Linked DNA regions of Homo sapiens. The protein of the gene in region 1 purifies or fractionates together with the protein of each later gene. This does not show direct contact. Each region holds a gene or a part of one and is shown on either strand. Other genes may lie near its edges.

The links.
Region 2: the proteins of SKP2 (region 1) and CDC27 purify together in Homo sapiens (affinity purification with western blotting; 2 studies listed by BioGRID, with this or other methods). This does not show direct contact.
Region 3: the proteins of SKP2 (region 1) and TTC9C purify together in Homo sapiens (co-immunoprecipitation; 3 studies listed by BioGRID and IntAct, with this or other methods). This does not show direct contact.
Region 4: the proteins of SKP2 (region 1) and ANAPC1 purify together in Homo sapiens (affinity purification with mass spectrometry; 3 studies listed by BioGRID and IntAct, with this or other methods). This does not show direct contact.

Annotation. Positions count from the first base shown.
Region 1 is NC_000005.10:36,175,356-36,183,306, forward strand, and holds part of SKP2 (S-phase kinase-associated protein 2), read left to right. Parts: intron 1-1,609; coding exon 1,610-1,661; intron 1,662-1,829; coding exon 1,830-1,937; intron 1,938-3,242; exon of another isoform or gene 3,243-3,455; intron 3,456-6,462; coding exon 6,463-6,676; 3' UTR 6,677-7,951. UniProt on the Homo sapiens protein: Substrate recognition component of a SCF (SKP1-CUL1-F-box protein) E3 ubiquitin-protein ligase complex which mediates the ubiquitination and subsequent proteasomal degradation of target proteins involved in cell cycle progression, signal transduction and transcription.
Region 2 is NC_000017.11:47,116,829-47,123,872, reverse strand, and holds the end of CDC27 (cell division cycle protein 27 homolog), read left to right. Parts: intron 1-1,253; coding exon of another isoform or gene 1,254-1,272; coding exon 1,273-1,429; intron 1,430-2,855; coding exon 2,856-2,938; 3' UTR 2,939-6,170; downstream 6,171-7,044. UniProt on the Homo sapiens protein: Component of the anaphase promoting complex/cyclosome (APC/C), a cell cycle-regulated E3 ubiquitin ligase that controls progression through mitosis and the G1 phase of the cell cycle.
Region 3 is NC_000011.10:62,724,062-62,732,175, reverse strand, and holds the start of TTC9C (tetratricopeptide repeat protein 9C), read right to left. Parts: upstream 3,691-8,114; 5' UTR 3,354-3,690; coding exon of another isoform or gene 3,328-3,353; coding exon 3,090-3,327; intron 1-3,089. Other genes in the region: HNRNPUL2 (heterogeneous nuclear ribonucleoprotein U-like protein 2), read left to right, coding at 5,020-5,557, 7,750-7,885.
Region 4 is NC_000002.12:111,768,525-111,776,475, forward strand, and holds part of ANAPC1 (anaphase-promoting complex subunit 1), read right to left. Parts: intron 3,952-7,951; coding exon 3,817-3,951; intron 2,611-3,816; exon of another isoform or gene 2,537-2,610; intron 883-2,536; coding exon 767-882; 3' UTR 1-766. UniProt on the Homo sapiens protein: Component of the anaphase promoting complex/cyclosome (APC/C), a cell cycle-regulated E3 ubiquitin ligase that controls progression through mitosis and the G1 phase of the cell cycle.

The DNA.
Region 1 (7,951 bases):
ATCTCATATCCAAACGGTATGTTGAGGAGGCAGTTGAAAATGCAAGTCCAGAATTTAGGAGAGGGGATATACTTGTGAGACGAAAAAACCCTCAAATGTTAATGAAGTTTGCCTGTTGTTCTAAATAAGTAACATTTATTGATTCATTTTCTGATTGCCAAGTAGCTTACATGACTTTCTTCCAAATTCTGAAAAGTTGCCTGTAATCCAAACACCCTTGAATACTGCAGTTAACATTTTGGATGTATTTCCTTGCAGCCTTTTTTTTTTCTTCTCTCTTTCTTTCTGTGTATGTGTTTGTGTGTAAATGTGAGTTTGAGTGTGTTTTGACCAAGTTGAAATTATAACGCATTGTATATATTTTGTTTACAAGCTATCCTAGTATTTTTTTAAATGTATGAAATGTTATCAGAAAGCGTTTTCATAATGATTAGCAGTGTATTTCACGGAATGGATGAGGTTAACATATTAAACTAACTGGAGGAGGGGCTAATATAACTGTTGCCACATTGAATATATTCATACACATCTATATTTTTCTAAAAGTGGAATTACTGGGCCAAAAGTAAACTGTATAATTCTCTGAATTCTTTAAAAAAAAAAGAAAATCAGTTCACTATCCAAAAAAAGCAGGAATCAGTTCACTATCCAAAAAACGCAGGGTTCAGGCTCCTGAAAGCCTGCAAATAAAATTAAATATCTACCTGTGGTACATGGAAGACCTACTTTATGGTAGACCTACTTTATAATAGAATTTTTTTTCACTTGATGGCTGAGAAGAAATATTTCTAATTTTATTTGGTATTTCTTGCTCCTTTTTATTATCTTGGTATTTTGCAATGTAGATTTGTTCATGTTCATTGCCTATTTTTGATTTATCTTTTTTCTCTTTATATAAGATTAACTCACTGTTTAATATATGTTGAAAACATTCCCAGTTTTCTGATACTTTTTAAATTGTTTTAATATGGTAGTTTTAAAATTTTATGTAGTAAATTTATGTGTTCCCTATGTTTTCTTTTATGTTTAGAAATACCTTATACCAAGATTCAATTAAATAATTACCCTGAATTATTTATTTAGTAATTTTTAATATTTAATATATTATTACCCTAAATACAAAAATATTATTTTTGTATTTAGAACTTATTATGTGGAATGTATTTAAATATGTTATTTGAGTTGGAGAAATATTTTTTTCCAGTTGTAGTGGCAATATTTCTTTTTACTGATCCATTATTTCTCTTGTTGATCTGAGGTGCTACCTTTGTAATATATTGTTTGCTTATATATACTGGTGTTTAATTTTACTTTTTGCTTTTGTGAATGGGATTTTTTTCCCTATTATTTTTCCAGCCTGCTATTGCTGATACATAGATAAGCTAAAGATTGTCATTTTACACAGTTTTCTTTTTCGGATGATTCTCTTGGGCTTTTTGGGTAGAAAATTTTATGTTCCAAGATGATCATTTTTTCTTTCTAATAGTGTGTGGTTCTAATTGCATTGCCCTGAACTTCCAGCATGATGTTCAATGATAGTAGTGATAACAAATATCCTTGTCTTGTTCCTCATTTAATAGTGACCATCATGTTTTTTTGCTTTTCCTAGATCTCTCTACTTTAGTTAGAAGATGCCCCAATCTTGTCCATCTAGACTTAAGGTATTTTTTTATTTGTTTATTTTAGATCAAAAGTTGAAAAATCTTGATTTCTCATTAAATTGGGAAAGGATCATAATGTTGAAGCAACTAAACAGTAGGTTATTTCTGTCTTCTTTATCTAGGATCAATGTGTGATTTTCAATATCTTTTCTTCTGCCTTCTTAACAGTGATAGTGTCATGCTAAAGAATGACTGCTTTCAGGAATTTTTCCAGCTCAACTACCTCCAACACCTATCACTCAGTCGGTGCTATGATATAATACCTGAAACTTTACTGTAAGTATGTTTTGTTTTTAATGCTTAATAGAAGGCAGGAAACAACAGAGATGCCCCTTGGTGTGAAAATCCATTTTTATTAATAGACATATGAAACCGAAACATTAGTAATAAGTATACCACAGACTGGCTATGAAAGACCAGCAGAGTATTGCTTAAACTGGTGAAATTGAGTTGATCCAGATTGTTCACTAAACATTTATTGTTTAGCTGTAAGCAGTTTTAATTACTAGCTTGCTGTCTTAGTATCTATGAGAAGACTTAGCAGAGAAGCAGAAGATAACCTTTTCCTCCAGGAAACTTGAAGTGTAATTGGGAAGGCAGACCCAATGTGGGTTAGTGTCTTTTTTTTTTTTTCTTTCCAAATTTTTCGGATTAACTCCAGTTGATTCCAAAACTTTCATCTGGGCTTAAAGTTCTGTATCTTCTAGTGATGTAAGTCCTGGATAGTGAAGAAATTGGAAAGATATAAGCCTGTAGATGGTATGTATTGTAAGTCTGATACTGTTTTTGAACAGGGGCATGTTAAGGTCTAAAAAGTGAAGTGAAGTGACTTATTCAAACCTGATGGTGAGTTGGTGGCTGACCTGGATCTAAATCCTAGGTCTCCTGGACAGAGGCAAAATAGTCACTATCTAATCTAATAGTTTATACAAGGGTTAGTTTTACCTGCTCAGCAACTTCCACAGAATCAAGGGAGTGCAAGAAAGCAGCAGCCTGGTCCATCTTTCCTTTGGGAAACACCATACCCAACTCATCCTGGGAATCATATCTTGTTTGAAAAGGTTTTCTGCATTTCATTCCAAAGGGCTGGAAAAGTCTCCCTAATGGCAAATGTACATGTGTAGCAATTTTATTAAAAACCACAAGAGGTCAGTATCTTAGAGTTGATCAGGTGCCCAACATGTCTTGAATGCGGCTGCTGGACTCATTTATGTAGCTCATGAACTAAAAGTTAATTTAGCTTCCAGCTCCTAGGTAGGAAGGGTGGTGAATTTGAACAAAGAACTTTAGTCCTCAGAATCATAGTTTGAATCTTTTAAGTTAGTTTCAAGTATTAATGAATAAATCAGATACTTCAGCTACACAGAGTTAACTAGTAGAGTTAGGAAATCTGGCAGCTACGCATTTTAATTAATCATTTTTAAATTAATCTTGGGGTTCAGGGTCTGAGCTGGTATCTCATTTGGGAAAGGACTGCCTAAAATAGGATGGCAGGATTTACTTTCCCAGCTCTCAAATGTTGGGGTTTAAATTCATGCGCATGAAACTCTTATTAAAATCCCTGCCCTCTCTATTTTCTAGCATCCAGAACTCCTAGGAGCTTCTAGCGTCTACCCAAAAAGGCTTCTTTGTCATCCATTCTTTCCTGTCCTTGCCATCTGGCCTCCTGCTTCTTTGCCTGTGCAGCCCCCTGGGGAGTGTGGTGATCATTCTTTTTGGGTTGCTTTTCTCAAGAGAATCTATCCATGTGTCTTGCTTTTGTTCCTTCTCTGCAGAAAGAAAGAAGCTAAGCAGGTAATGACCCAAATGCTTTTTCTCAAGCAGAGGCGAGGGGAAGGCTGTGAGCTCTTCATTTTAATATTTTTATCCAGTGGGATAATAGTAATAGTAATTGCGATACCTGCATAATAATGGCATGGTAATACTTGGAGGCAGTGTGAATTGATAGTTACAAACACGGGTCTGAAGTCACAGACCTGTTGTGAACCTTCACTGTATTATTATTTCTTATTTGTACAAATCTTATGAAATAAGACAAACAGGGGCATTAGGAGTTTAGTTACAAGTCAGACCACTAGAATAGAGAAGAAGAAAGATCCTGTCCTTGAACATTAAGGTAAAGAGTATATTTCTTTAGGTATTGTGTAAATAGTACACTGATTTGCATTGTGAATCCTTTAGGATGAGTTTGTTGGTACCTTATGCTTAAAAGTTTCTTGAGATAAAATAAGAATTAGAATGACTCTAATTTCAATCATTTTGGCAGCTGATATATTTGAGGTTTATAATAAAAATTCCAGGATGTTTCCATAATAATTTCAAGAGAGCCATCTATGCTAAAGAACTTAAGGCTATTTATTTCTCGGAAGTGGGAAAATACAATTTGAATGTCTTTCTTCTGTAATATTTTAAAATACTTGGGAAACTATAAAGTTTTCTTCCCCAGGACCTATTCCCATTATATTTATTCCCTTACTTCTTAATTGGTCTTCTTCTCTATGTCTAAACTTCCTTCTAATTCTTCCCTATTTCTCATTCAAGTAAGAAACCCAAGCTGGAGGTAGTAAACTAATCTAAGATAAGACTAAAAGACTTCTGTGGTAGGAGCATTTGTAGTTGAGGCATTTAAGATTTTATAAGGAAAACAGGATTATTGTACAGATAAGGTAAGGAGCAATCCTGTGAAAGAGTTCATAAATATCTTTTATTTTCTAAAATTCAATATACATAAGACATTGGTGTGATTTTACATTTCTTACATTAGAAATAATGGCTCTTGAACTACTTATTTCTATTTGCTATCCCTTAGTTTGCTCTTCAGTCTCTTCCATTGTAGTTTTTAAAAGATGCTTGCAAATTTTTTATTCTGAGTTGTAGGTAATGCACATACCGGGGGCATTTTTTTTTTTTTGTCTCCTTAAAATTTTAGAGACTTTCTGGATTTTTGACTTGGAACTGGTTCTTCATCCATCATCTTATCTTATATAACCCCCTTATATATAACACCCGGGTGTGTTCTGAGAGTCTGTTCTTAATTTCTTTCCTCACCAAATCTCTTTCCCAATGCTGTTGCAAGAACATGTCCTCCTCTGCCATCTGCCATTCCTCCTTTTCTTACTCCACCTACAGTTTCTTCCCTTAAATATTCTCCAGTGCAGAATGGCTCACAATTTGGCTAATTTGGATATACCAGAACCAGAATTCTCATAGTAATTACAACGTTTCCCAAGTTTCACATGAGGGATTCAAAGTTGGAGCTGGATTGCTGTCATCGTAAGTGATTAAGTATAAGTATCTGTGTATACTGTGATCTTACTTCGACAGTGTTTCTACATTCCAGAAAGCAGTTTACTTAATGACAGCAATTTGTTCTTTCTGATTTTCTTTGGTTATATACCTTTAGATCTTATTGTCCCCTTGTGAACAAGCATATTTATTTCCCTTGGATAATGCTTTTATTTTATAAATTAGCCTTCATCTTGTACTCAGCTAACGTATATTAAACATTTGTGGGGTTTAAGACACCTTGTAGAATGTAGAATAAATACATTTAGGGGAGTAGTGGGAAGACTGGAAGAGCAGGTTAAACACGGAAGGTCTTCAGACTAGCTGAACAGCCTGGGTTCTGTAAACACAAGGGAAGCATCAAAGGTTTTGGAGCAGATGAATGACTAACATGAGCTAGGCTTTAGGAGGATGCCTTGGAAATTGGTATATAGAATAGGCTAGAAGGAAGAAAGACAGTTATAAGGAAAGTTTGGGGCTTTTTAAAAATAATTATTGACAATGTGAAAATATAAAGGATGTTTCTGACTTTAGGTAATTGATGTGCTCATTGATCTGTAGTAGGATTTTGTTGAAATTCCAAAATAAATGTTCCCTTTCCTGAGACTTTGTACTGTATGTCCCAACCTTGAGCAAACAGAGATGAGAGAGATGAATTTCTAGGCACATAGATCTGAGTTAAGAAGGAAAAAATCATTACCAACACCAAACAGTATTTACTTTGGAAAAACAGAATTTGTGAAACAGAATTTGAGAAACAGAATTTGTGAAACAGAATTTCACTGTTAACAGGGTTGAATTTCATCTAATGTGAAATACCTAAAGGGACTGGCTTATCTATGCAGAAAAAAAATGGTAATACGTAGGGAGGTAAGATGGCTATTACCTCCTATAAAGGGTGTGATTTTTCACCCATTGTCTCTACCTGTACCCAACTGTATAACCCTATCTAAAATATCTTAGGGAAGTCAGTGGTAGTTTTCATCACACATAATGGACTTGTTGACTATGAACCATTATTAAGAAGTTCATCAGTCCTGACAGCATCTCCCTTTAAGAGATGAGCCTAGTTCAAATAAAGGTCAAGTTCATATCCTTAATTTGCATGTAACCTGTGGTGGTTCCAACTGGTGCCGCAGTAAAACATTTGCTTTTACCATCACTCACTTGCTAGTTTCTTCTCATAACACAGTAACCCCATTCAGATCACTGTATAAATCACAACTGGAGAAAGGAAGCAAATATGGTTGGATTCTTAAATAAATCTGAGTTTCTAAGGTTATTAGGAACCTCATTCAATAAAATGCAGCAGTGTGTTTCCTAATGACATGTTGCTCAAGCTATATGGTCTGTGCTTTCCAGTTTAATTTGCTATTTTCTCAAATCATTTATTGTAAATTACACTTTCAGACTGCATTTTGTAGATGACACAAATTGTAAAATTTGGGTCATATAACTCTAGTCAAACAGTTTCCATAGATACTGCTATTCTGAAAGTCTTTTTCTTCCTTTCCAGTGAACTTGGAGAAATTCCCACACTAAAAACACTACAAGTTTTTGGAATCGTGCCAGATGGTACCCTTCAACTGTTAAAGGAAGCCCTTCCTCATCTACAGATTAATTGCTCCCATTTCACCACCATTGCCAGGCCAACTATTGGCAACAAAAAGAACCAGGAGATATGGGGCATCAAATGCCGACTGACACTGCAAAAGCCCAGTTGTCTATGAAGTATTTATTGCAGGATGGTGTCTCTTCTTTAGAACAGGGAAAATAGGCAGGAAGCCCAATTGCTGGAGTACTTAGCTAGTTTTATTCTTGGTTTTCCCTTTGCCTTCATTCTGCAAGTATACTAGGGAGCCATTTGAGAGGGAAAACTATGAAATCTTGCTTTTTGAAATGATTCTAAAAGCTTCTATCACTGCTTTGCTCTTAAGAGCCAAAGTTGTAGGCCTTTTGAAATTTTAGGAGAGTGAGCCTATAATTTCAAGATACCTTAAAGAGCAAAATTTGAGCCACCTCTTCCAAGTGCCCTTCTTACTAAGTCTATTCAGAATCAAGCTTAAAAATTACCACCAGCAAACAATCTTCATAGCCCATATAACTTTTATCTATTTAATTTTATAGTATTGCTTTATAAGACAGCTTAGAAGAACAATAAGCTATTTGTATTATGAGCTGAACAAAAAGAGAATCATAGGATAGTAGCGTCTGAGGCCATCTTTTCTAGGAATAGGAAAGAGAAAAATGTATTTGAATTTTGCCTTTAGATTTGAAATTAGGTTAATAGAAATAAGTAACCCCATGTAATTCACCTTAAAACTTAACAAAAGACCAAACATTACAAAACCCAGAGATATAGAATCAATATAGGATTTGAAGGCCCAGCAGACAGTTTTCTATGACAGGTTAATCTGAAGTATCCTGTAATGTTCATTAAGTTACTGTGTTTCCAGAATCTAAATTAGATGAGAAATATAATTGTGGTTTTCTAACTTGATAATCAAATTATGTTAACATGGGTCCTTTAGCTTTTAAAATGACTTGCTTTGTTTTAGAAAGGTGGTATTAATCCACTCTCTATTCTTGAAAATTTGGATGGGAGAATTCTGAAGTTGCCTGCTGTTTTCCTTTAGCGCTGAGGTTCTTAAGGTTACTTTTATATTACTCTGGAATCAAGTATTTTAAATTGTATTTTTTTTTTAAATGATCTCTCAGCAATAATTGTTTGAAACTATCCATATATAAGGTTATCAGACCTACAGTTCCCTAAGAGGAACTGCATGTTCTCTTCAATCAGAAATATACAGTAGAAGCAGGTATATCTTCCATGCAGTTTCAGTAGTAAGCACTACTTATACCTACATAAGAGTTAAAATCCAGATGTGGGACCTTTTGATACCATCAGTGATATATATTTTTTTAAACTGGTACAGAGAAGTGAAAAGATTAAATTCTACTTCTATTTTTTTTTTTTTTTTTTGAGACGGAGTCTCGCTCTGTCA
Region 2 (7,044 bases), on another chromosome or scaffold:
TCATGGTCCCAAACAGTGACTTTCATAGCAAATAATGACATTTTATAAGAATAAATGTAATACTTCCTGTACATATCTATTGAGCAAATTAAACTAAAGCTCCGAACTGAGTGCTCTGGGAATAACAGATTTAGTTCTAACACTTAAGAAAATGATATCCTAGCCAGGCATGGTGCCTCACGCCTGTAATCCCAGCACTTTGGGAGGCCTAGGCAGGTAGATTACGTGAGGTCAGGAGTTTAAGACCAGCCTGACCAACATGGTGAAACCTGACCTCTACTAAAAATACAAAAAATTAGCTGGGCATGGTGACACATGCCTGTAATCCCAGCTACTCCAGAGGCTGAGGCACGAGAATCACTTGAACCTGGGAGGCAGAGGTTGCCATGAGCCAAGATCACCCCACTGCACTCCAGCCTGGGCAAGAGAACAAGATTCTGTCTCAGAAAGAAAAAAAAAAAAAAAAAAAAGTAGAAAAAAAAGTAGAAGAACATGAATGGCACTGTGTTGTCTTGATTAAGAGAAATGGCTTCTGAGAGTCCCAAGGCCAGACTAGTCAGTTTTTTACAGACTAGACCTCCATATGCCAATTAGTTAAGGTGACTGTGGACAGTTGTAAAGAGTTGATATAACTCAATTTAAAATCACTGTAAATGAAAGTTAATTAAGCAGTTTATAATCCATTTAATCCCATTATCATTGCTCCAGTCAGAGTGATATTTATTGGAAACTTACTACCTGAAAGATAGAAGCAAGGAATTCTGAAAATAATGTCTGATTATATTAAAAGGAACTCAAAAGCTGGTATGAGTTCATCTGTAGGAAGAAAATGTCCTACCCTTAGAATGAGTTTAGAGCACATAAATCAGGAGCCTAATTTAAATTATAAATATTTAGAATTGTAGAGGCTGGGCGCGGTGGCTCACACCTGTAATCCCAGCACTTTGGGAGGCAGGTGGATCATCTGAGTCAGGAGTTTGAGAGTAGCCTAGCTAACATGGCAAAACCCTGTCTCTACTAAAAATACAAAAATTAGCCAGGGGTGGTGGTGGGCACCTGTAGTCCGAGCTACTCAGGAGACTGAAGCAGGAGAATCGCTTGAACCTGGGAGGTGGAGGTTGCAGTGAGCCAAGATCGTGCCATTGCACTCTAGCCTGGGTAATAGAGTGAGACTCCATCTCAAAAATAAATAAATAAGTATATATATAGTTAGAATTTTATAGTTGAAGCTCACAACTTAATGAAAAATGTAGTGCTGCTGTTTATTTTTAGGTTTACAAGAAGTTAGGTCAAACGCACCTCGCCCTGATGAATTTCTCTTGGGCTATGGATTTAGATCCTAAAGGAGCCAATAACCAGATTAAAGAGGCAATTGATAAGCGTTATCTTCCAGATGATGAGGAGCCAATAACCCAAGAAGAACAGATCAGTAAGTATCATACATATGATTTTGAGTATTTAGAAAGTTACCTTTTGCATAAGGATTTGTAGGCTACTCTTTTATTTTATTTTTCTAACCATGGTGTTTTCATTATACCAAATGGACTTTTAGGGAAATTGAACAGGGTGATGTAATAACAAAATGCATATAAAGTCAGATAATGAGTCTCTGTTCTGGATCTAGTTTGCTGTGTGACTTTGACAAATTCATTGCTAAGTTTTACCTGGACCTCAATTTATGTTTGAATATGTAACCAGTACTGTTTTATCTGCTTCATAAAAATGTAGTTTTTTAAATAACAGAATGGAGAAATTTCTGACAAGATAAATTCTGATTAGATGCCTTTGTTCCAGAAAACTTGGTGAAAGGCTTTAATTAAAATTATAAGCCATGGGGCCAGTCGCAGTGGCTCAGGCCTGTAATTCCAACACTTTGGGAGGTGGAGGTGGGTGGATCACCTGAGGTCAGGAGATGACACCAGCTGACCAACATGGTGAAACCTCGTCTCTACTAAAAATACAAAAATTAGCTGGGCGTGGTTGCGGGCGCCTGTAATCCTAGCTACTCGGGAGGCTGAGACAGGAGAATTGCTTGAACCCAGGAGGCTGAAGTTGCAGTGAGCCGAAATCACGCCATTGCACTCCAACCTGGATGACAAGAATGAAACTCTGTCTCAAAAAAAAAAAAAAAGTATATATATGCCAGGCATGATGGCTTGCGTATGTAATCGCAGCTACTCAGGAGGCTGAGGTGGGAGGATTGCTTGAGCCTAGGATTTCACGACTAGCCAGTGAGACCCTGTCTCTAAACAAATTTTTAAAAGTAGCTGGCTGTGGTGGTACGTGTCTATAGTCCCAGCTACTTGGGAGGCTGAGGCAGGAGAATCATACCACTTGAGCCCAGGAGTTTGAGGCTGCAGTGAGCTATGATTGTGCCACTGCACTCCAGCCTAGGTGACAGAGCAAGATAGATGATTGATTGATTGATTGACTGATAGACTGACCCCATAAACCTTTTGAAACTGAAGGTTATAGTCTGTGTTTCTGTGGACTAGCAGGGAGTATTCTTAAAGTGGAGTCAGTGATTGGAGGTTGGGGGAAATGTCAATTTTTTTTTTTTAATGTCTCAGAGAACTAGCTAGTTGTAATTCCTAGGGCAGGAATAAGGAACTCATTAGGAAGAGGCAGTTTTGGTAGTTAAAACTTAAAGGTAAAATGCAGTAAGCTAATATCAGACCTATTATAAAGTTAGGAAACTTGAGTTGCATTTTATTAAAGGATATGAGGATTTTTAAGGGCCTTTATTTAGGGTTTTATCTCTCTGAATATAATACAATTTTTCTTACTTGTTTTCATGAACCAACAGGACATATTTGTCAGAAAACTTACTGTGGACTTCTGTTTTATTTTTAAAGTGGGAACAGATGAATCCCAGGAGAGCAGCATGACAGATGCGGATGACACACAACTTCATGCAGCTGAAAGTGATGAATTTTAACTTCTGGAAATCAGACTTTTACAACTGGATGTGTGACTAGTGCTGACGTGTTTCTTGTCCCTCTGTATACTGAGTCTTTACTCTTGAGCTGGCGGTGTCATCGTCCGTCACTTATACCATGAGTGTGCCACTTTCATTGGACCCTGACTGTATACAGAATGAAAGGCAGTGCAATATTTAGCTGCTAACAAGACTGGCTCTTTTACCAGTATGAATGACAATTTATGGGGGGTAGGGTGGGGAACTTTCTTTTCTGTTTTTCTTTAATCTCCCTTTGTTGGAAAGTATCATGAAAGGAAGAGTTATGCTTTATCTTGAAGGAACCATTAGATATGGAAAATAGTGATGAACCAGAGTTTCTTGGTTGCTTTTTCAAAAATTTGTTTTTATTTGGTTCTGTTCCTGATAAACAGAGTAACTGACCTTCATTTCTAGGTTCTTCAAGAATGGTGTTTGCAAGTGCCAGATGGAACAATAAAAGACGTTGCCTATAACAGTGACTTGATTGCCAAGGAATGTAAATTACCTTAAACTTGCAGTATCTCCCATAAACAAATGTAATGGGCATATTGGGACTCGTATGTAGGAATCAAATATCCCTCCATACAGTGTACTCTTATTCTTGGCAAGAATGCTTTAATGTCTAACCAAGAATTTTAATTTATTCATCTTGCTTCAAAGTGTTGATCATTGTTGTCTTGGTATTGCAAACTTTAAAATTGTTTCTTACCATATTGCCTCTTCTCTTTGAGCTCTGTGGGATCACCTTTAACATTCAGAGATGATAGAGTGGTTCCCCACTGAGAAGCCAAAACAAGGCCCTTAATAACCCCTTAAGTTCACCATATGAATCAGAAGGAGAACACTAAAGTGGAGAGACTTTTAAGAGATCATGATAGTGAAAGCCTTAATATAATCAGAATTGTACCATAACCTTGAATCTATATTTGTTCAAAACATCCCTTTGACTTTTCTAAGTGTTTGCTTAAGCAGAGTGTAAGAATGTGTGGTTACCTTTGGTTGAGATCCTTTCCATTCTTTTTGACTCTCTGCTTCAGATTTTTTCAGTAGTGTGAGTCACCAAAACATTTACTAAGAGTAATTGGGTTTAGGATGTTGGAAATTTTTAGCTTGGGGGAAAAAACATTCTTATGAAGGAGATAGGTTCTCTTCTGAGTTTGTCATAATATAGATTGGTGTCTTTGGAAAATGGCCACAATTTTAAGAATTCAATTATGCATATAAAATGATAATTATTGGAATTCCACAGTAACAGATTTAAACAGTCTTAAATTGTTTATCTCCTTTACTGTAATGTATTGAAATTTTTAGAGAAATTTTAGTTGTTAACATTTTATTAAGTGCCAGTGTCAGAATATAACAAATTATAGTTTCTTATGAATGACAGGCCTACAGTTATTATTCTGGATTATTTGATGGAGGACAAACTTACCTGTATTTGTTAGTCAAGCTGTGAAAATAAGGTGGATTACAAAAGATGTGAAAAAAATTTTAGTCTGTAGACTCAGTAATTTTCTATAATTTACTGTTAATCTCATTTGAACATGGATTAGGTACAATTTATAAATTAATTCAAGTCAGGGTCTTTAGGTATCAGGTGCCAGAGAGATATTTAACAGATTTCCCTACCTAAATTTATGTATATGTACTGTCTAAAACAATACTTTTTTAAAAAAAAGGAACAGTTGGGAGAAAATAAATATAATGAAAAATTCCCAGAGGCTAGCACTTGGATTCTAACACGTATGCTATTGTATTATCCATTAGTTCTGTAATATTTAATTTTAGATTCTTTTATTTTTTTAATTGGCAAAGCACAAGGTGCTGTATAACAGTGTCATTTAGAGTTTTATAGAAAGCTTCAACCTGAGTTCTGCGTTATAAAGCCTGGAGAAAGCTAAGCTTAGAACATAACTTGCTGAAGTATAATTATCTTTTTGTAGCAGGAATTTATGTGCCAGAGGTGAGAGTCTTTCTGGTACTGATTTTTTGAGACCAAGGATAAAAGGATCGTTTTGTAAGACATGCCATGGCAATGGCTGGTTGGGGGACAGTTTCCGCCCAAGCTTGGCCTATTTTATTTTTCCTCATACCTACTTTCAAAGTCATTTAGGTATTTGAAGCCTTATTTCCCACGTAGTAACACTTTCTGGCTTTTGCAGTTTCTTTTTTTGTTTGGTTTTGTTTTTTGCATGGAATGGGGATCAAACAACCCGAAGAAGAACACATTTTGATCAAGCAAAATGTTTGCTTCAAATTTCAGAAGTTTATTTTACAGAAATTAAATTAAGTAGTTTGACATCCTTTTCTCTGTTTCACACATATATTAGGTTGGTGCATAAGTAATTGTGGTTTTTGCCATGACTTTTATGGCAAAACCTGCAATTACTTTTGCACCAACTTAATACATCTATATACATATATATATACGCGCACACACTTGTTCAGAAGTTATGTTGTGGCCTTGGATTTGTTTTTCCCCTTGGAAATGGTTCTTAACTCTGGGATTTTAGAAGGTTAGAATATTTTTTCAAGAGAACAGTGGTACTCAAAAGAATGAAAGGTGGTCCCTACATTTTCTGTATTCATCACTTAAAATTTTTAATTTTTCCGAGAACTACAAGTAACATTTGAACCATGCTGCTGTTGTACCTTAAACAAAAACTCAGTGATAACCAGTATTTAGTCTATTAAAAATGCTCTTTTTGAAGAAAAAAGTTTGGAAGTCTCTGATTAGCCAGAGTATAGTATGAGTCTTCACTGAGAAATATGGTGACCCATTTTCTTTGTGAAAACCTGGGAAAATGCAAGTGTGGGTATGAAGTGTGTGTTCTGTTTGCATTGAAACAATGTAATTTTGTGTCTTCTTTTTGCTTTAACTGACTTATTTCAGAAATTGTACAGTGTTGAGGGGGAAAGTCTTTTCTGTTAATATATTTGCAATTCATTAAAGGATATGGAAAATCCAAATAAGTTACTTTTGAAAGCAATTTATAATCAAGTTGTTAAAGCTATATGAAAGCTGTGCCATCTGTATTTTAATAAGAAGGCACAGAAAAACAGAGATACAGTTTTATGTTTCACAAAAAACTAGAGCAATGTTTATCTAATTTTTTAAAACTTACACTCTTAATATATTTATATTTTTAAACGGTCATACTCTTTTTTAGTATTATTTGGAATATCAAAATAAATACTATGACAAAAACAATGGTAATTTTTAGAATACCTTTTTTCAAACTACAGAAGCCCCTTACCAACCAGCAGCTGCGAATTTGCAAGTCAACTGCTTATTCTTTGATCACGTGATTTCTGAAATTTCTTCAAAAGGGACACAAAGGTTTTTTTGTTCCAATTAGAATCTATTTAAAAAGGTCAGGATCTGAAAGAAGTAAGATGTAGAAACTAAATTTTACTCTAATTTGAAATTTTTTTTTTTTTGGTATCTTGGAGAAAGTACAAAGAGCTGAAGGGTTTTATTCAGACTTGAAGAAAAGGCAGTAACAGGGAAAAACATGTGAAGGTGGGGTGAGCTGGGCAGTTCCAAGGGGAACAATGCAGACCTCATAACCTTCCCTAGGACCTGCCATTTAATGTCAGCTGAACAAGGATAAACAGCAGCTTAGACATGGAGCTATTCTTTGGCTTGTTTAGCTGACAACTTATGGTTCATGAAGGTTCAGTATAGGTTTTATTTTTCTTTGTAAGTGCAAACTTTGTTTAAAAGCTATGTTTGCTGAGATCCTGGTCTATGGATTGTGTTACTTGCTTTGTGGATGGTATTTTCAATTCTCATCACTAGAAGGTAGGTATTACTTCATTTTACAAAACAGAAAACAGGCTCAGCTATTAAATGATAAAACTGGGCACTTTTGGCATTAGTGTATGTTCAGAATCTTATATTTTAGTTTTGGACTTCCTCTGGAGGTTTCAAGTCATATTTAATGGTAACTGTAAGTTGTCTTCTCTAGCATTTTTTTAAAGACAGTCTCGCTCTGCCCCGCATCCTGGAGTGCAGTAGTATGATCATAGCTCACTGCAGCCTCGAACTCCTGGACTCAAGCAATCCTCCCACCTCAGCCACC
Region 3 (8,114 bases), on another chromosome or scaffold:
AAAATACAAAAAATTAGCCAGGCGTGGTGGCGGGCGCCTGTAGTCCCAGCTACTCGGGAGACTGAGGCAGGGGAATGGTGTGAACCCAGGAGGCAGAGCTTGCAGTGAGCCAGAATTGCGCCACTGACGCCAGCCTGGGCGACAGAGTGAGACTTGGTCTCAAAAAAAAAAAAAAAAAAAAAAAAAGTGCTGACCAGGCGCGGTGGCTCACACCTGTAATCCCAGCACTTTGGGAGGCCAAGGCGGGAGGATCACTAGGTCAGGAGATGGAGACCATCCTGGCTAACAAGGTGAGACCCCGTCTCTACTAAAAATACAAAAAAAAAATTAGCTGGGCGTGGTGGTGGGCGCCTGTAGTCCCAGCTATTCGGGAGGTTGGGGCAGAACGGCATGAACCTGGGAGGCAGAGCTTGCGGTGAGATCACGCCACTGCACTCCAGCCTGGGCGACAGAGCAAGACTCTGTCTCAAAAAAAAAAAAAGTGCTTTAAGAAAAATAAAACTATGTCGGGACAGAGAATGAATGAAGTCAGAGTGCTGTTTGCTTCTGGAAGGCTTTTTGGTGGGAGGAATCGGGGGACAGAGTCTTACTTGCTCTGTCACCCAGGCTGGAGGGCAGTGGCCCAATCTTGGCTCACTGCAGCCCCGGCCTCCCATGCTCAAGACATTGGCCCACCTCAGTTTCCAGAATAGCTGGGACTACCGGCAAGCACAACCATGCCTGGCTAATTTTTGTATTTTTTGTAGAGACCGGGTTGCGCCACATTTCCCAGGCTGGTCTTGAACTCCTCGGCCTACCAAGGTGTTGGGATTACAGTTGTGAGCCACTGCACCAGCTACAGAAGGCTTCTCTAAGGAAGCAACTTTTGAGTCCAAATCTGGATAAGTGTCATTCAAGGGACAGGGCATTCTAGCTGGAAAGACAGCCTACAAAAGTGTGAAGGTGGAAATGTACTTTGGACATTAAGTGTATAAAAGGGCCAGTTTGGGAAGGGCATGGTGGCTCACACCCATAATCCCAGCACTTTGGGAGGCCGAGGTGGGTGGCTCACCTGAGGTCAGGAGCTCGAGACCAGCCTGGCCAACATGGCAAAACCCCGTCTCTACTAAAAATACCAAAATTAGCCAGGCATGGTGGCAGGTGCCTGTGATCCCAGCTACTTGGAAGGCTGAGGCAGGAGAATCGCTTGAACCTGGAAGGCAAAGGTTGCAGTGAGCTGAGATCACGCCACTGCACTCCAGCCTGAGCAACAGAGTGAGACACCGTCTCAAAAAAAAAAATAAATAAATAAAATAAAAAATAAGGCCAGGCGTGGTGGCTCAAGCCTGTAATCCCAGCACTTTGGGAGGCCGAGGTGGGCGGATCACCTGAGGCTGGGAGTTTGAGACCAGTCTGACCAACATGAAGAAATCCCATCTCTACTAAAAATACAAAATTAGCAGGGCATGGTGCCACATGCCTCTAATCCCAGCTACTTGGGAGGCTGAGGAAGGAGAATTGCTTGAACCCGGGAGGCGGAGGTTGCAGTGAGCCAAGATCGTGCCATTGCACTCCAGCCTGGGCAACAAGAGCAAAATTCAGTCTCAAAAAAAATAAAAGAGCTAGTTGGTGCTGGGGCCTCGAGGTGAGTTTGGATTTTCTTCTAAGTGTGATGAGATGCCAATGGGGTGTTTCAGGCAGTGACAGGATCTGATTTCCTTATCTGTAAAATGGTGATAATCCTTGCAGTTTTGTGAAGATGGCAGATATCTGTAAATGACTGCCCAACATGTTATAGGCACTCAATAAATAAAAATTACTGGGCCGGGTGCAGTGGCTCATGCCTGTAATCCCAGCACTTTGCGAGGCCGAGGCGGGCGAATCACCTGAGGTCAGGAATCCAGACTAGCCTGGCTAACATGGTGAAACCCCGTTTCTACTAAAAATACAAAAAATTAGCCAGGCGTGGTGGCACGCGCCTGTATCCCAGCTATTCCAGAGGCTCAGGCAGGAGAATCGCCTGAACCCGGGAGGAGGAGGTTGCAGTGAGCCGAGATCGTGCCATTGCACCCCAGCTTGGGCAACAAGAGCGAAGCTCTTCTCAAAAAAAGAAAAAGGAAAAGAAAAATGAGGAAAAGCTATACGACCCACTGAATATAAGGGATCTAAACTAGCAGCTAAAGAAATGAACGTGTTTCACAAATATTAAATGTCCCTTAAATAAACAATGGCCTGACCTTAAGTATAGTTTTTCCCTATAGCATGCAAAATTACCTAAAGCTATCAACAATACCCAGAAGGCTGTTAGAAATGCAAACTGGGGCTGGGTGCGGTGGCTCACGCATGTAATCCCAGCACCTTGGAAGGTAGAGGCGCGTGGATTACCTGAGGTCAGTAGTTCAAGACCAGCCTGACCAATATTATGAAACCCCGTCTCTACTAAAAATACAAAAATTAGCTGGGCATGGTGGCGCATGCCTGTAATCCCAGCTACTCAGGAAGCTGAGGCAGGAGAATCGCTTGAACTCGGGAGGCAGAGGTTGCGGTGAGCCGAAATCACGCCACTGCACTCCAACCTGGGCAACAAGAGCGAAACTCCGTCTCAAAAAAAAAAAAAAAAAAAAAAATTAGCTGGGCGTGGTGGCTGGCGGGCGCCTGTAATCCCGGCTACTGGGCAGGCTAAGACAGGAGAATTGCTTGAACCCGGGACGGGGAGGCTGCAGTGAGCCCAGACCGCGCCAGTGCACTCCAGCCTGGGAGACAGAGCGAGACTCCATCTCAAAAAAAAATAAAATAAAATAAAATAAAATAAAATAAAATAAAAAAATAAAGAAATGCAAACTGATAGGCCCCACGTCAGACCCATCCGAATCTCTGGGGATGGGGCCGAGGAGGTTGTGTTTTAACAGACTCTCCAGGTGAAGTCTGAGAAGCCCTGCTCTATGGCAACTTAATTACAGCCGCACAGATTGACAGGTTATTCCAATTCATGGCAGAATAAATGGATGACAGTAAAAAAAAAAAAAAGTCAGCGTTTTTTCCCCCAATGTTCACAGATGTTCATGTTCCTGTCTTAATGCTCTCTAGCCACCCTTTAGCCCCGTTCTTACCAGCTAGATTGTTATAGCAGTCTGTCTGGGTGGTATGCAATATGTTTTCTTGTTCAGGCGTGAGGGCCGGGCCCTGAGGTCCGAGATTAGGTAACGGAGAGGGCAGACTCGGATCCAGACCCCGCAGCTGAAGCAGAGCTCGATGGTACCTACTCACAGCATCTCGGTACTTCCCTTCCCGGTAGCGCTGGTTCCCTTCCTCCTTGTACAGCTGAGCCTCCTGCAGACGCTTCTCCATAACTGTCGCCCACGGTTCTTGCGGAACTGGGAAGTGAAGGAGCAAGTGAAGCTCTGGGGTTGGGAGCAAAATAACTGACAGTAGCAGCCAATTTAAGGAGGCAGGAAATTACCCTTCTTCCTGGAGAGTCCCCCCACAGGGACCTGCGGTTTGCTTGTTTCTACTGAAAGCCCCACCTCTCCTTTCTGCAGTCTTTTTCTCAAGAAGTGCAGGCAAGTAGTAAGGAAAGGGATGTGGGAATAATGAAGCCCAACATTAAGTGACTTCCTAAAGAGGCGATGTGGGGGTGGATGAGACTTTCCGAAGAACTCAAGCAAGGCCCTACTCAGGAATTGTTGCGGGCGTGAGAACGCCTGGGACACTGGCTTCCGCCTTTCTATTGGACCCGCCCCCCCCCGACCTGGAAGTAGAAGGGAGTGGGCGGGACTAGTGCTAAAACTCCAGAGGGCTTCAAGCAATTCTAACTCTTCTTCCTTATTCAACATTTATTTGTTGACGTCAATAAATAAACTGGGAAGCCGAGGTGAACCACCAGCGACACTGAGGTGTCCACATAAGCGTCACAGCTGCAAGCCCACCCGGCGCCGTGACCAGTTCCTCGCCCTCTGCAGATGCCCAAACCTGGAAGTCTCCTGGGCTTCGGTTTACCAGCAGGAGCAAGGAGAGGAAAGGGTCAGAGATGCGTACAGTTTGGTATCTTGAGGGTCGCGCGCATTGCGCCACACCACCCAATCAGAAGAGGCTCCGGAAAAATAATCCCGCAGAAACGACCCCGCCTCCTCAGCGGACCAACCTGGGAAAAAAAAAAAAAAAAAATTCCCCTGGCAGCTTCGCCAATTGGAAAAATCCGGACGATCACGGATGACCAATCGGAACGGCAAATGACGATTCAAGTTGTCCAATAAGAGAAAAAGGGCGGGTTCAAGGGCCTCTGTTGCTGGGTAGAAGTTGAGGCGTTGAGGAAAAAGGAGGGCCCGGATTACAGTATTTCTTCGTTCTGGGGAGCCCTTTTGCTTCCTAGCCAGAAAAACAATTGCTACTAGGCTTACATGTTGCAACACATTCTCTAATGACTTTTTTTTTGTCGTTACTGCTGCAAGCACAGACAGTAGGGAAAAGAGGCTAGCGACCCCTAAAACGCCACAGCAAATGGAAGTCAGACGGAAGTAAGGGTGGTGGGAGGGGCATGGCATCGGGGAGCTCCGGGCGGCTGCGCAGAACTCCCCGGCTGGAAGTACTGAAAGACCGGCGCGCACACGCTTCCGTGCTACGAGGCACTTGAGCTGCAGCCAGCCTTGCCCGTCTTGGACTCCACTGCGGCTGCGCGATAAAAGCACCGGCGGCGATTGGCCCGGGGGCGCCAGAGGGCGGGAGGAAGCGGGAGGAACTCCGTCGTCCTCCGCGCGCGCCTGCCCGCGGCTGGGGAACCAAGGGCCTGGAGGGGAAACAGCTCCCTGCTGCGTTGTTTTGGGCTCCGTGAGCCGAAAGGGGGAGGGGAGACGAAGGAGAAGCAAACACTGCGCAGCGGGACCGTGCGCGGCCTCCGCTCCTGCGTGCGTGCGCTCGCTCGCGCGGGCTCAGTGCTGGCGCGTGAGGCGGAGGCGGGCGGCGGCGGCGGCGCCTGCGCGGTCGGACTCGGTCGACGGTTCGCAGGGGAGGAGGCGGCGGGAGGCGGAGGAGGCGGCGGCGGCGATGGAGGTGAAGCGGCTGAAAGTGACCGAGCTGCGGTCGGAGCTGCAGCGGCGGGGCCTGGACTCGCGCGGCCTCAAGGTGGATCTGGCGCAGCGGCTGCAGGAGGCGCTGGACGCCGAGATGCTCGAGGACGAGGCCGGCGGCGGCGGGGCCGGGCCCGGCGGGGCCTGCAAGGCGGAGCCTCGGCCTGTGGCCGCGTCGGGCGGCGGCCCGGGCGGGGACGAGGAGGAGGACGAAGAGGAGGAGGAGGAGGACGAGGAGGCGCTGCTTGAGGACGAGGACGAGGAGCCACCCCCTGCTCAAGCCTTGGGTCAGGCCGCGCAGCCGCCGCCGGAGCCCCCGGAGGCGGCAGCCATGGAGGCCGCGGCCGAGCCAGATGCTTCCGAGAAGCCGGCGGAGGCCACGGCCGGGTCAGGCGGGGTAAATGGTGGCGAAGAGCAGGGCCTCGGCAAGAGGGAGGAAGACGAACCCGAGGAGCGGAGCGGGGACGAGACGCCGGGATCCGAGGTGCCGGGTGACAAGGCCGCCGAGGAACAGGGTGAGGAGCTGGCAGCCGAGCCCGGCTCCAACCTGCCGGCTGCGCCCCTGATCTAGCACCCCGCCCTGCACCGCAGGGTCCGAGTCCTTGTTCTCGCTTGCCTCAAAGTGCCATTTGATGGAACTCCTTTCATTCTCTACCCACCTTTCTGAGGGGTTAGGCCGCCTCTCGTGGCCCTACTCTTTGCAGGAGGAAGGTTCCTGCCTAACTTGGTTCCTTGGTGATAGTGGATGGCAGTGAGTGATTTTGCATGCGAACTACTTGTGAGCTACCTGTGGAACAGTCTCCCACGGTGCTTGTTATATTTTTCTTAGCTGAGAAAGTGCTAAGCAATTGGGGATTACACGGAGAACTAGGCCCACAGTTAGAGGGTCAGGTCTTTGGGCTACCTGACCTAACTTTTTCGCCGTAAAAATGTTAAGCAAAAATCGAAGTCCGTCAAAGTCCGTTCCATTAAAAGCATGTTACCAGAGCTTGAGCCACAGAGAATCTGAAAATCCAACCTTGCTCCTCTTTGAGCTGTAAGGGAGAGCCTCTAGTGTAACAGTGTCGAGTTTAATAGTTAACCAGTGAAGAGAAAAATCTTAATCTAGTTCATTTAGAGTTAGTTAACGTTACTTGGCTAGGGTTTTTATCTTGCTTGGATTATGATTAAATTTTAATTGTCCCACTGAGTCCGTGGATAGGCATATTTGTAGATTTGCTGAACACCTGGTGCTAGTCTTTTACGTTTCAGGTCCCTCGGTTCCTGAATGGTAATGACTGAGGTGCTGTTGGGTCCGTTGAGTAACCTTGTGGAAGAGGTGTGTTGTAGAATCGCCCCAGGGAGTTAGTGACCTTTCTCCTTTCTTTTGAAGTGATTGGATGGTTAGAACTGATCCATAACAGTGTGTGTCCGAGTAGGGAGGATAAGTCTTACTATAAAGTGGGTGGCCTCAGTTCTTTTGTTAGTAATATTTTTAGGCCACTATGGAGAGTCATGGTATAATCGGAACCCATTGTACAACAATCACATGCAACTTGCAGATTGTTTGTCCTGTGTCCCGGAGCAAAAATCCCATTACATAACCTTTGACTTATGTATATCCCAAAGAGCAGATAAAAAAATAATTGAAGGATAGGCTGGGGGTGGTGGCTCACGCCTGTAATCCTGGCACTTTGGGAGGCCAGGCGGGTGGATCACCTGAGGTCAGGAGTTTGAGACCAGCCTGGTCAACATGGTGAAACCCCTGTCTCTAGTAAAAATACAAAATATTAGCCGGGCGTGATGGCGGGTGCCGGTAATCCCAGCTTCTTGGGAGGCTGAGGCGGGAGAATGGCTTGAACCCGGGAGGCGGAGGTTGCGGTGAGCTGAGATCGCGCCACTACACTCCAGCCTGGGCGACAGAACGAGACTCTGTCTCAAAAAAATATATATTGAAGGATAAAAGACTGCTTTAAAGAAATTATTATTAAAAACCTTCCTAGTGTTGCAAAATACAGAAGCCTAGGGAAAAACTCCAAGTTTTTTCCTCTTGCAGAGAAGTTGCTAAATATACAACAACACCTTTCTGCCCCAAATGTGCAGTCTAGATGCGGTATTATTTATGGATCTCTTGTGACTTAGTGGTTTGCTCTTGCAACTTTCAGTAGAAGTCCCTGATAAAAATACAGCTGTGTATAATGCACTTGAGTCCATTTGCCACATGAATAAAGCCATGGATGGCTGTGTATTTCAGTGCAGGAAAGGGAAATAAAAGAAATTGAGGCTTCTCTGTATCATGAAGGTGTGGAAAAGTGTTACAAAATATGTACTAACTGCCTACCTTAAATCTAGATCTGACAAGAGTCAAAATTAAATTAACCTTTGAGGTTTTCTTAGAGACCTAGAGGATATTTTTTATGTCATATTGATGGGGAAATCTGCAAGTTTGACCTGATTTAAGTGGATAAATTTAGAATGCAAAAATTGTCCAATTTTTATCTAGTGCTTGACTGTAATTAGCCCATAATGCCCCTTTTTAAAAAAATTAAATCACAGCCAATGACAGAAAGCTGATCTTTAGAAATAAAATGTTATGTGAATGTAGTGGGAATAACCTGGCTGTTTTGATCAGACAGATTCTCAGATTCCCTGTTAGTGTCTATTAGTTGTGAGCTTATTCTACACTCCAGTATGAAAACTGCTGATTTTCTTTCCCTCGTTTTTGTAGGAGATGACCAGGATAGTGAAAAGTCAAAACCAGCAGGCTCAGATGGTGAGCGGCGGGGGGTAAAGAGACAGCGGGATGAGAAGGATGAACATGGCCGAGCTTACTATGAATTCCGAGAGGAGGCTTACCACAGCCGGTGAGGGAAACAGTCCCTTTCGTTGAAGGGAGTGTCTGCTCTGATTTTGGTATACCTGGTATTGACTGGAGAGACTGGAAGGAGGGTGGATTCAAAATGGAATAGGTTTTTATAGGCATGAGTTTTAGATTGCATCTACCATGGAAACTCCTATTGCCCTTTCTCATTTATTGGAAAAAGCTGTCTGCTGGGATTTGATATTCACTGACAGTTTAAAATGGACATAATG
Region 4 (7,951 bases), on another chromosome or scaffold:
TGCAGACGGCCGACTCCTCACTGTCTTCACATGGCAGAGAGAGAAAGAAAAATCTCTCTTCCTCTGCTTAGGAGGCCACCAATTCTACTGAATTAAGGCCCCACCCTTATGATGACCTCACTTAACCTTAGTAATCTCCTATATGCCCTATTGCCTAATACAGTCACACAGGGATTAGGGCCTCAATATATAATTCTGGGAGGACACAATTCAGTCCACAGTACTTCATGTTGAGCAACTGAGGGCAAAAATCTCCTTCTCCTGTTTAAGGTGATCACATCATAAGAGTGTCTGGCATTGTCACCAGAAGTACAAACTTATTTTAGACAGGACAACTGTGACATCTGAGGAAATGCTAAAGCGCTCTTTTGCCACAGAAAGTAAAACTTTATGACATAGCTTCTTTTAAAACTTGGCATTTTTGGGCATAGTCACTTCACCTATACCACCACAGTTCAAAGACTTTAAAAATCAATATTCACTCCAGCAACCCCTGCTCTATTCTCTAAGTCCAAAACTAAAGCAATCATCAAGAGTTTTGGAAACAAACCAAAAACTTTATTTACAAAAGTAAATTTTAACTTGCTTTTATATGTCATATACCGTTAATGATGACAGCAACAGATTTAAAATACATTGAGGTTTGTGCAGCTCATTTCCCCCTAGTTATACCATAAAACTTTATAAACATTGCTTTAGCTTTGATGTTTGGTCACGTTTGTTGTGCAGAAGTCACGTTTCAGGGTAGGTTCACCGCCAGACACGGTCACATCACCATTGGCTGTGGATTTCCAAGAAGCAAAGGAGCCAATCTCAGCAAAGCTCGCACTGGCATTTTTAGCTGCTTAAATTTGAAGAGCAGTTCAGCAAAGCTTGTGCTCCCTAAAATGGAAATGGGGTGGGAAGGTCACATCTCTAAATAAATTCAGCCATACCTCTCCTTTCAAGGAAGCTTCAGAAACACAATCATGTTTAAAACAGGCATTTTTCCCTTTGAAAATGACTATGCAAAGACAATATTTAAAATTATGAAATTCCTTAATACACTGTAATGTAAATTGAGTATCCCTTTTCCAAAATGCTTCTGAAGAGAGGTGTTTTGGATTCTGGATTTTTTTAGATTTTGGAATATCTGCATTACACCTACTGGCTTTCTTTTTTTTTTTTTTTTTTTGGAGACGAAGTCTCACTTTGCCACCGGGGCTGGAGTGCAGTGGCGCTCTCTCGGCTCACTGCAAACTCCACCTCCTGGGTTCACCCATTCTCCTGCCTCAGCCCCCCGAGTAGCTGGGACTACAGGTGCCCACCACCACGCCCAGCTAATTTTTTTTGTATTTTTAGTAGAGATGGGGTTTCAACGTGTTAGCCAGGATGGTCTCGATCTCCTGACCTCGTGATCCGCCCGCCTCGGCCTCCCAAAGTGCTGGGATTACAGGCGTGAGCCACTGCGCCCAGCCTCGGCTGAGCATTCTTAATCCAAAAATCCCAAATCCAAAATGCTGTAATGAACATTTCCTCTGAGCATCATGTTGGTGCTCAAAACGTTTTCGATTTCAAACACTTCAGATTTCAGATTAAGGATACTCAAACCTGTATATGATTTGATAGAATTTACCCATTCTAGACTTCAGAAAGTGACCTATAACTACATGTGAAACTACTAATATTGTTTAATTTTATATATATATATATATATATATATATAAATTCTTTAAATATAATGTGCAAAAGTGCCTGTCTACCTTCAAATACTATCTAAGTGGTATTTTACTGGTTCTAATACAGTTGACCATTGAACAACCCTGTTTGTCCAGCCTGGCCTGAAAAGAAGTCTATACTTTTAAAATGTCTTCCTTTTCCTTTTAGTAGTTTGACTATTAATGTGACTAGGTATGGTTTTCTTTGTATTTATCCTGCTTAGGGTTCACTGTGGGTTAATATTTAACACAATTTTTCAAAATTCTTAGCTTCTGTCTCTTCAAATATTGCTTCTAACTCATTTTTTCTCTCCTCTTATTCTCTTATTCCAACCCCATGCATGTTTATTTTTTTTTCACGGTTTCCACATGTCTCTTGTACTCTTCTCTGTATTTCCTAACCATTCTTCCCTCTGTGCTTCAGTTTGTTTACTTTCTACTTGTCTTCCAGCAGATAAGTGTCTTCCAGTTCACTTCAAATAATCCAGTACTGAGATCTTCATTTCAGTTACTATATTTTTCAGTTCTAGAATTTCCATTTAACTCTTTTTTATTGACCCCAGGTTTCTGGTGAAATTCCCTATCATTCCTTCTATTTTCCTGGAAACATTAGACATAGTTATTTTAAGTTCCAGTATGATAACTCCAATATCTGAATCACACATAAGTCTGTTTCTATTATCTGTTTTTTTATTATTATTATGTTTCGTAATTTTTGATTCAACACTGAATCCTGTAGACTAAAAATTGCGGGGGCTCTGGGTATGTTTTCTTTCTCCTATGAAGGTTACATTTTCTTCTGTCAGGTGGGGAGAAAGCACACAGATCACCTTAGTTCTGCTCTAGGCTAATTGTAGGTCAAGTCTGCTTGGAGTGAAACTGAAGCAGACCAGATCTAAAATTAGGCTAGAGCAGGCTTAGGGCTTGGCCATGTATTAATTCACCTGAGGAGCTGGGATGCTGATCAGAGCCACTTCACTTTAACAAGCGTTGAATTCCACCCTTTGTCTCCTCAGTCCTATGCTGCTGCTGACATTTTTGCTTACATTTTTGGCCTTGTGGCTTCTGCTAGATCTCTTGAAGTCTTATCCCATGTATATGAAGGCTAAAATATCATTAAGTAACTCAAGGGAAAGGTATATCCAGAGTCTGAGTTATGATTTCTATTGTTCTCTCCTGCCTGAGACTGTGTTCCTCAAGTTCTAGGCTCTTGGGCAATCACAAACCCAACCTCTGGCTCCTCAGCCCTGCAGCATTGCTGCTTTTTGCTGGCACTCTACTTCTTGTACTATGAACTGGCAAATGCCTTTGGGGGAGAAGCTAGGGTGAATATAAAGCTCTCCCTGTTGTACTTCCCTTTTCTTATTTTTTTTTTTTAGCTTTTATATTTGTTTTTGAGGGCAAGTGAGTCCAATACAAGCAATTCCATCATGGCCATAACCAGAAGTCTCTAGATAGTAAACTTTTATCAGAGGCTTGCAAAACAGCAAAAAACTAGTAATGTAATTAAACTTCAAGTTTAAATGATTAAATGGAACAATCTTTGCCCTTATCAAAAAATATTTTTTTTGAGAATCTCAAAAAAATTGGGTGCTTAGAATTCATCATATCTTAGTATTCAGCTTAATGGATAAATTTTTTTTATCTGTTTCTATATTCTGAAAAATACAATCAGGTGATAATACTATTAATTTTTAAAACTATTATAAAAAAATTCAAACACAAAATTAGGTATTTATTAGTTGTAAAGCTTTGTAATATTAGAAATTAAGATTATATGTGATTCTAAAAAACCCAACTGAAAACCTAGAAAATAAAGAAAAATAGCTTTAATAAAAAAATCAATTAGTAAAGAATAATATGGAATATTTAGTTTATTAGTATAGATCAGTGTTTGGGGCTCTGTGAAGAAGAATCCATCCTTTTCTGAATAAAAATGAAAGTTATTCATATATAAAGTTGATAATTTTTTCTTTTTTGCTCCAAAACAGTCCCTAACAATGACACTGCAACATTAATGAAGAGGAAAGTCAAACTAGGGGCAGTAACTACTGAGAAACTAGAACATAAAGGGGTAGGTAACAGAGTTACTGAAGATAAGACTTAGATATGCAATTACCTTCTAGTCCTATAGGTGGCAGGTGCTGTGGAGCTGGCACAGAGTGGTAGACGAGGAAGCAGGCCAGCATGCTCAGCTGTGATTCCTCCAAGGGCTGCCCGCTGAGGTAGGCGTGCACACACATATCACCCCCGACTGTGAGAGAAACAAATGGAACGGAACCAACTGATGACAGAACTGAGAGGCACAAGAAATATCTTCTATTACTTTTTCATCAAGAACTTATTGAACGCTCAGCATATATAAAGCAGGTTCTATAGCCGGTATTGAGGCTACTCTGACAAGCTAGACTGAGTCCCTGTCATTGTAGAGTTTAGAGTGTTGTTGGGGGAGACAGATATTACACAAATAATGACACAAACAAATGCATAATTACAAATTGTGAGGAGTGCTATAAAGGTGCAGTGGTCACTGTGGTTGTCTCCCCGAAATACCCCTTGTCACACCCTACCCTCCACCATATATTATATTTGATGGGACTGACTTCAGCTCCAGAACTAGATCCTTACTAGTCTTGGCCAGGGGTCCTCAAACTTTAACATGTGCCAGAATCACCTGGAAGGCTTGTTAAACCACAGATGAGTGGGCCCCACTCCATGCACAGAGCACAGAGATTCTTATTCAGTAGGTCTGGGGTGGGGCCAGAAAAACTCCATTTCTAACAAGTGCCCAGGTCATGCTGCTCCATAAACCACACTTTGAGAATCACTGATCTTGGGTGATCAAGGCAATCCCATTCTCCTGATGCAGTGTTAGTTCAGAGACAGGCAGACCCAGGCCATTTTTTCAATAAGAGACATTCTCTGCCACAGGGATAGATTGAGAGGTGTGCATGAGATGCAACTCGAGCCAGAAACCTGAGGAGGTACTTAATGACAAGCTTGCTGGAGGCTCCAGGGAAAGAAATTCCCTCATTCTCATCACAAAACTCCTAGAAGCAACTCTATTCTTCCTCTGAGTATCATGCTGAGCTAGAGGTGAACATGTTACAGCCATTTGATTACCATCCGAAAAATGCACTGAGGATAAAGTCATGGCACAGAATGTAGCTGATGGAACCTCAGAGAAATGGAGTTGAAGACACTGGAAAAAGATGACCCTTTACGTGCCTTACCTGCAGACCTCTAATAACATAGGCATACTTGTGTCCTTACTGTTTAAAGGCAGGTTAAGTCAGGCCTTCTTTTACTTGCAAACAAAGGCATTTTGATACAGAAAAAAGGTAGAGAGCATGAGCGGGCAGGCTAAAGATGTCAGGAAAGCTGCCTGAGGGAGAGTGGTCTTGGAAGGCCTGGGAGGAAATGCCATTAAAACTGAGGCTGCATGGATAAATATGAGTTGGGCAGGTGAAGAATGAGAGGAAAAGGTTCTAGGGAGGGAAAACAGCATATTCAATGGCCCCACAGTGAAAAGGAGCTCAGTGTTTTTGAGTAAGTGGAAGGGGCCAGGGTGGTGTGGGGAGCAAGTGGTGTAAAAGAGGCTTTGTTGAGGAAAACAGGCGCCTTGCAGGTCACACAGGTCCTGGTGCCACACAGTAGGGATTTCTTTCACAGCTGAATCAGGAGCCATTGAAAAGCTTTAAGCAGGAGTGTTACATCAGTTTATTCTTTAAAAGACTGTTCTGTCAGTTAAATTGAGATGGTTGGAATGGAGATGAGAAAAAGCAAGGAGGCTATTTAGGAGGCTATAACAGTGGTCCAGGCACAAAATCATCATTCTGTTCTAGGTAGAAATAGTAAAATGTGGACAAATTCAAGAAATATCTATGATGAGGATTGAAAGGCATCAGCAATGGGTCAGCTATTGCAGAGAAGGGAAGGAGGGAAAGGAGCAAGGATGACTTCCAAAAGGGTCAACAAAGGAGTGACAGTGAAATGGTGACAAATACTGAGAATTTTTAAAGAGGATTTTTTTTAAAAATTGGGAAAGTGTGCTATGACAAAGTCAAGGGAGGCTCATTTCAAGAAGGAAAATGTAGCTAAAAGCCTCACCATTGTAGAGATGGAGTGAGATGAAAACTGTAGACTCCACTGAACACAGTTGTGAGGATGTCAGTCTACTGGGAGGTGGAAACATTTAGGTTTGGGGGAGGCAGCAGAGGGAGAAAGGTTAAGGGAGAACAGATGAGATTCTTCTTTGAACAGCTCATCATGAAGGAGAGCATGGTGGTTCAGCCTCTCTTCAATGACTTTCTCATGTCTACCAGCATTTTGTTTCACTGATTTTCTCTATTGCTTATCTGTTTTTGGTTTCATTGGTTTCTGCTTTTATTTGCTTGCTTTGGGTTTACTTTGCTTTCCTACTGCACTTGACAAGTCTTAAAAAAAAAAAAAAAAAAAAAGGACAATGCCAAAAATTGCATTGCAATCCACTGCTGGTGGGAAAGTAAAATGGCACAATTTGGAAAATTGAGTGTGGCAATGGGTGAAGGTACAAATGACGCAAAAATAGGAGAATGCTGGCAACTATTAAAATTGGTGTTGTGGTTTATTACACTAGTCTACTTACTTTGTATATTCTTTAAATTTCCATAACAAAATATGAAAAAGTTAATAAAACTTTTTAAAGTTCTTAAACTTGAAACCCGCTTTCTTTGCCCAAAATTATAATTTGAGGAGATAAATACTGTACAAAACATTTATATAGGCCAGGCGCCATGGCTCATGCCTGTAATCCCAGCACTTTGGGAGGCCAAGGCACGTAGATCATGAGGTCAGGAGTTCGAGATCAGACTGAACAACATGGTGAAACCCCGTCTCTACTAAAAGTACAAAAATTAGCTGGGTGTGGTGGCGTGCACCTGTAATCCCAGCTACTCAGGAGGCTGAGGCAGGACACTCGCTTGAACCCAGGAGGTGGAGGTTGCAGTGAGCTGAGATCGCGCCACTGCACTCCACCCTGGCGACAGAGCGAGACTCTGTCTCAAAGAAAGAAAAAACAAAACCGACATTTATATAATATAAATTGGCTGCATTTTCAGATTAGTGTAGTGATTTAATGGGTTATCTCAGATCTAATGAGTTGTCAGTGAGTGATCCTGAAAGTCCACATATGCATCTGTGATTTTTACACACAAATATGAATGCAATTTCCAATTTTCAGTTAATTTATTGTTCTCTACCCCAAAGCCAACTGCTAGTGCTTGTAAGAGAGGAGACTATATATTTAAGAGGTTTTGTTTTAAAAAAAATTCTAGTTTTTCACTAAAAAATAAACACATTTTTGATAAATCTGTGTGGCAAGTCAAATTCAATGGAGGCTGACAGCAATGCTGGAAACCACCAAATGCGCTAAAGAGCAACAAGGCAATCAGGGCCCTGTTTTAGAGAATGTTCTAATCACTGCCAAAGTTCCATACATTATATGAAATGTGCAAATCAGGGAATCTGCAAAGATTTAAGGAAGTATTTATTATCAATAGCAAAGGTCTGCCATAGGTGATCAAATGTTAAATTGAATAAAAACGAAACACGAAAACCTTTGAAATAACATGTTTTTCCCCAAAAATGAGGATAAAAATGACTATCCAAAAAATTATGAAGCTATATGATCTTTGAATCTGAACAGGAAATGACAAATACAATGCAGCTTTTAAATATAAACATGGAGAGTCTGAAATCAGGCTTTCCAAGTATATCCCTCACAACTTGGTTTACAATTTAATTTTTTTCAGAAATTTATTTCCTAGTGTTACAGGTGGATAGTTTTAAACTCAATTATATTCAAACGCTTAGGGTCTATTGATTACTAATAGTTTTCACTAATCAAAGCAAGAATTGTTTCTACTACTATTACTAAGGTTAGTATTAACCCAAAGCAAGCAACTGTCAGATATTTACTGGGAGCATTTGAATGAACTAAAAAGAATGAAAAGATCAAGGAGTCTACTCCTGAAAATCAGTTTCAGGTGTATTTAACACACAGATACATTTCCATAAATCTAAAGGCCCCATCGCTTGCCTCATGTAAGTCAGAATCACTTCTACACTGTTAACGAGTAACTACAATTTCCTTGCAATCACAAATCCTGCTGATAGAAAGCCACCACTGTGACATCACATAGCTGTGCGGTCCCAGGTTTTCAAAACTGAGTTGGTACAACAAGCTCACTCAGCAAGCACACGTCAACTTCTAC